Regions from separate parts of the Homo sapiens genome. Here region 1 is linked to region 2. The links come from fine-mapping of genetic effects on gene expression. A gene starts in region 2. The other region holds a variant in brackets. All regions are shown on one strand. Distances are between the middles of the regions. Region 1 has its middle 6.7 kb from the start of SNORA71B. Region 2 holds the start of SNHG11 (small nucleolar RNA host gene 11).

Evidence for each region.
Region 1: its variant is fine-mapped to the expression of SNHG11 in whole blood (TOPMed, PIP above 0.99).

What each region holds. Positions count from the first base shown.
Region 1 is chr20:38,417,172-38,420,080 of GRCh38, reverse strand. No RefSeq gene overlaps it. Among named protein-coding and RNA genes, the nearest start is that of SNORA71B, 6.7 kb to the left of the region's middle. The variant A/G (reference allele first, on the strand shown) is at 1,621.
Region 2 is chr20:38,445,242-38,448,150 of GRCh38, reverse strand. It overlaps SNHG11 (small nucleolar RNA host gene 11), which reads right to left and starts at 1,497. Exons shown (of 5, transcript NR_003239.1): 1 at 1,139-1,497; 2 at 528-685. It overlaps SNORA71E (small nucleolar RNA, H/ACA box 71E), which reads right to left and starts at 68; the gene lies at 1-68. RefSeq lists enhancers at 108-662, 1,612-1,661.

The DNA of each region.
Region 1 (2,909 bases), 28 kb after region 2:
CTGAGGGGTACTCTTAAGTTCAGGCTTTGGAGATTAGGGTAAAGTCACTTATTGCAAGGCCTAGGCATGGTGCCTTGTGCCTGTATTACTAGCACTTTGGGAGGCCAAGGTGGGATGATTTCTTGAGGCCAGGAGATCAAAACCAGCCTAGGCAGCAGACCCCGTCTCCACAAAAAATTAGCCAGGCACGGTAGCGCACTCCTGTAGTCCCAGCTACTCAGGAGGCTGAGGCAGGAGGATTGCTTAAGCCCAGGAATTCGAGGATTCAATGAGTTAATGATGGCACCACTGCAGCCCAGCCTGGGTGCCAGAGTGAGACCTGTTTTTAAGAGAAAGAAAAATTGCAGCAATGACATGATCTAAGGATGTGCACGCATGAACTGTCATCTCTGATTCACAGAGGGAGGAATCTACACATGTCCCAGGGGCCATGGTGAAAAGGTGCAGTTAATCTCCCCACTTGAAGTTAAAACCACCTTGGCTGGAGTTGGGGCAAAAATCACGCTGGTAAGCCTGTCTTGATGAATTTGGCACATTAATGGTCTGCCAGGCATTCTTTGTTTTTTTTTTTTCTCATGTTTTTTGTTTTTTTATTTTTTGAGTCAGCCTCACTGTTGCCCAGGCTGCAGTGTAGTGGTGTGATCTTGGCTCACTGCAACCTCTGCCTCCCAGGTTCAAGTGATTCTTGTGCCTCAGCCTCCTAAGTAGCTGGGACTATGCGCATGTGCCGCAACGCCCAGCTAATTTTTGTATTTTTAGTAGAGATGGGGTTTCGCCATGTTGGCCAGCTGGTCTCGAACTTCTGACCTCAAGTAAATACCCGCCTCGGCCTTCCAAAGTGTTGAGATTACAGGTGTGAGCCACCATGCCTGGCCTAAGGGGCAGGCATTTATGTTTAAAGGCACCATACCAGCAGTCAGTTCCCTGCAGAAGCATCCAGAAGTCACAGGTCCTTTTTCTGCCTTGGCCTTTGAGGACCATCCTGACTTTTTTGCCACCTTTTGCCAACTGGCTGTGGCTGCTTGAACAGATGCCAGGGGAAGGAATCTGGGTCCACTTGAGGAAGCTGTAACTGATGACAGATGTCTGCCACAGTGGAGGGGACAGCAGTAGAATACATTACCTAAGTCTAAGCAGTAATACAGTACCTAAGTCTGCATATTTCATCCGGCATCAGATCATCATGGGTGCCTCTCGCCACTGTTGCATGTGAGGCAGGAGCCATCCCAGGTCTTAAGGGCCTGAGGAACTCTGAGAAGAGCAGTCCATTAACCAAGGTGGCCCAAGAGCCAGGATTAGGTCAAGGAGGCGTGGCCCTTGCTGGGATATGTGCCCAGTATGAGGGCCTGAGGAAGCAGCTGGTTGGAGACTCCACAGCAGAACTGACAGCCAGGAGAATGGAGAGCTGGGAGAGTGAGGCTCATTCACTCAAAAAGCATTGTGCATTTACTTGGGAGCCAGACGCTAAGCTGGAGAAAAGGATACAAGGGTGAGTAAGGCAGTTTGTGTCCTCAAGGAGATCCCAGCCCAGATAAATATATGTAGCTGTGTTTCAGAGGCTTGGTTCCAGACCACTGCAATAAAGTGAGTTGCACACATTTTCTTGTCTCCTAGTGCATT[A/G]AAGTTATTTTAGCCAGGTGTGGTGGCACGTGCACCTGTAGTCCCAGCTACTCCAGAGGCTAAGGCAGAGGATTTCTTGAGCCCAGGAGTTCAAAGCCAGCCTGGACAACCTAGTGAAGACCCTTGTGTAAAAAAATCAAGTTTACACTATAGTGTAGTTTATTAACTGTGCAATAGCATTATGTCCAAAGCAATATAAATACCTTAATTTAAAAATATTATGAAAGAATGCTAATGGTTATCTTTAATCCTAGCTGCTTGGGAGGCTGAGCTGTGCACCAACATGCCCAGCTAATTTTTTTTTTTTTTTTTTTTTTTTGAGACAGAGTCTTGCTCTGTCACCCAGGCTGGAGTGCAGTGGTGCGATCTCGGCTCACTGCAACCTCCACCTCCTGGGTTCAAGCAATTCTCTGCCTCAGCCTCCCGAGTAGCTGGGATTACAGGCACCCGCCACCACGCCCAGCTATTGTATTTTTAGTAGAGATGGGGTTTCACCATCTTGGCCAGGCTGGTCTTGAACTCCTGACCTTGTGATCCACCCACTTTGGTCTCCAAAAGTGCTGGGATTACAGGTGTGAGCCACTGCGCCCAGCCACTAATTTTTTTTTTTTTTTTTTTTTTTAAGGGATAGGTTCTTGCTATGTTGAGACCCTGTCTGGTCTCAAACTCCTCCTAGGCTCAAGCTATCTTTTCACCTCAGCCTCCAAAGTACTGGGATTACGGGTGTCAGCTACCACCCCTGGTCCCCTTTGTGGAATTTTAATGCTTCCAGTCCTTTGCCTCCAAAGCTCTCCAATGCCTTTAAAACGATGGTTTTCTATTTTATCCACCCTTTCCAGTTCTTAGCAGAAACATTGGCCTGTCAACTACTCCCTTCTATTTAGAAGCAGAAATCTTGACATTAGCAGATTTTACTTAAAAAATGTTTTTCTCTCTGTTTGGAGAACGGATTATACCAGGGCAAGAGTGGAAGCAAGGTGACCAGTTGGAAGATTATGGCAGTTGTCTAGGTGACAGATATTGGTGACTTGGAGTAGGGAGATAGAGGTAGACAGCAAGATAGATGTCTATGTTCCAAGATAGAAAGATGAAGATACAATTTTAGGCAAATGAAGCTTAGAGCAGGGAAGTATGTAAAATGTGATATACCATTTTTTTGGTTAAAAGAAGATTTATTCGAAATCAGCCTGGACAACATGGTGAAACCCCATCTCTACTAGAAATACAAAAATTAGCCAGGCTTGGTGGTGGGCGCGTGTAATCCCAGCTGTTCAGGAGGCTGAGGCAGG
Region 2 (2,909 bases):
CATTTCCTCTGCCTGCACTACCAATGACCAGGACACGGGCAGCCCGTGATCACTTACGAATGCAGGCGCAGAAAAGAGCAAAGGGGATCCAGGAACAGAGGCCAAAGTGAGCTGCCTGGAGATTGCCAAAGCGCCAAGCCCAAAGGACCTGAGCGCTATCCACTTAATGCAGTACAAAGATCTCATCTGCCCCCATCAAGAAAGTCACAGAAGACCAATTTCTGGTTAAAAAAAAAAAAGGCTTAAATTGTTCATTCATCCCACAAATATTGAGTATCTACAAGTAGCCAGACATCATGGGTTCAAAAGCAAGAAAAACGTGCAAGATCTCCCCACTTACAGAGCTTTCGCAGTTTCCCTACATTACAGAAAGTCAAGCTCAGGAGAATGAAAGAACTTAGCCAGGCTCTCCTCTGCACCCGGCTTTGCCATACAGTTCTCGGAATTCATGACCATGCCCTCCGCTGGGGTCCCCCAGAAGGGAATTTGAAGGGTCCCCCAAAGTGCTCATGACCAGCACCACTTACCCAGGGACATCCTCACACCGCGGACAGTGGGAGCCCCTCAGGGAGTGCAGATCAGGGTGCTGCAGGAAAAATGGGGGCGCTGGCTGGTGCGGAACCAGCAAAGCCATCCAAGGGAGAGCTGTCATCTGTCTCCAGGATAGCCGCACAGCCCACGAGGCCTAGGCAGGGAAAAGCGTAGGGAAGGGGCTTAGTACAAGGTCCTGGCAAAGGAGTCTGGAATTCGCCCCTCTGGGGCCCTGGGAGCGTCCTCCATTTAAACCTCAGCCAACTGGTCTGTAAAATGGAGGTTTTACAGCTACTTTTTAAAGGTTATTGAGGAGAAAATGAGTTCACGGTTCCAAGGACGTGGCACAATGACCGACACTTTGTAGGCAACCGAAAAGCAGCTTTGGGGGCTTCCAAAGTCAGGAGTCGGAGATCGGGGTCGGGGGAGTAAAAGTCGCGAGGTCTCTAGCCCCCTCAGCCCGCGTGCAAGGCCCCGGGCACAGCGTTGCCAAGCCGTTTCTCAAGGGGGCACTAAGCCTCCCCGCAGAGAGGCTGTGCCGACCTAGGGGGGTTTGACGTCTGCATGGGGTCGGCTTAGCCCAGCGAAGGCCGAGGGCGCGGCTCACCCGCCAGTCTCTTTCCCGAGGACACGCGAAACCCGAGGGGCCCACCCCGGCAGAGGGGACGGACCACTGCACCAGCGGCTGGGCCTGACGTCCAGCCGGCTCTTCCCACTCCCCTCGGGGCCTCAGTTTCCCCTTTTGTCGGGGAGGAGGTACACAGCACCGGCCTTGGGAGGCCACCAGGGGTTCTTGGGAAGACCACTCCTCGGGCCCTGCCCCTCATTGACTCATCCGGAGCGCCAGGACGGATGGCGGCGGGTACAGGGGTAACCGCGCGGAGGAGGCTGAGGGGCAGGCCGCAGCCACAAGACGCTCTCTCTAGTGCTCAGCGCCCGCGGAAATACGGCTGGGGGCGCGGCTGCAGCCTAGAGCGGCGCTTCCGCCGGGCCCCTGCCCAAGCAGACGTGCCTGCAGCGCCCCCTGGGAGGACGGAGCTGCAATTCTGTCCCTCCACTAACGCCCTTTATCCAAGCGTTCATCTAATGGAGCATCCCTTCATGAGTTCACTCACCCATCCATTTACCCAGAAAATATTTGTGAAACATCAGCTTCCATTTGAGGACACAGTGAGAAGACAGCCATCAGTCTATAAACCAGGAAGTGGGCCCTCACCGCTTCCTAGTTTACCAAATCTACTGGTGCCTTTGATCTTGGACTTTTAGCCTCCAGAACTGTGAGAAATAAATTTCTGTTGTTTATAAGCCACCCAGTTCATGATGGCACTTTGTTATGGCAGCCCAGACAGGGGTCGGCTGGCAAATAGGTCAGCTTGGACCATGGCCAGCTTGGTGTCCACACACCCTCCTCTCCAAGCAAAAAAATAGAAAAAAATCCACTTCAAACATGCATCCTTTCTAGCATTGGCAAGAGTGTGTCTGCAGTCTTGTTTTGTTTTTGACGTCAGCATACAAATAAAGGGTCAGCCATTGAGAGTAGACTGTTCTTTTAATGCTGTAACAAAGGCTGTCACAACATACTTATTTCAAGAGCTCAACATACTGCCCTGTTTGCTGGAATCACGTACTACGTAGGCCAGTGTCCCAGATGAGAAAGTCAACGTGGATAAGCAAAATGCCCACAAGGCTGTATGCAACAGCCAAACCCTCAATGGAATTTCTTAATAACTGGCCATTTAGGACAAGTTAAGGAAAAGACTTGGGCTTTTAGATAGAATGTGTTGGTGATAGAAACCTAACTTACGCTTTAAAAATAAAATACATTATTGGAAAACTTATATAATCAAGCGAAGGGAAGGGCAGAGGTCAAGCTGGGCCTCCAAGACAACAAACACCAGAACTGGAATTCCATCCCTGTCCTGCAACTCTGCCTCTCTCTCTGGGTGGACTTCTGACTTCACACTTGCTCTGATTTTTTGCTTATAGTGAGGGACATATGCCACGTTTACCCAGGGGAACATCTCCATCCTGCTTCCATTGAGGGTAGGCAGGACTGCCACATATGGTTGTGCAGGTCGTGTACTGCACAACTCATGGGAGCACCATACACATCATAGCCTATGGTTGAGAAGCAGAGATGCCAGGGATGATTGGGCAATCTGATGACACAGAAAACACTTGACTTAAAAGAAAGAAGGTGTTTTCCCTAGCATGTTCTTCCCTGGTGTAGCAGAGTCACCCTCTGTCATACCATCTCATCCTTAAATGATGGTCCTTCTAATAAAGTCCCTTGAAAATATCTCTGAATGGCAACACTTTTGAGGAATTTTTTCTCCACGCTACTTGAGATCAAGCAGAAGACTTTAATTAAACCTGTG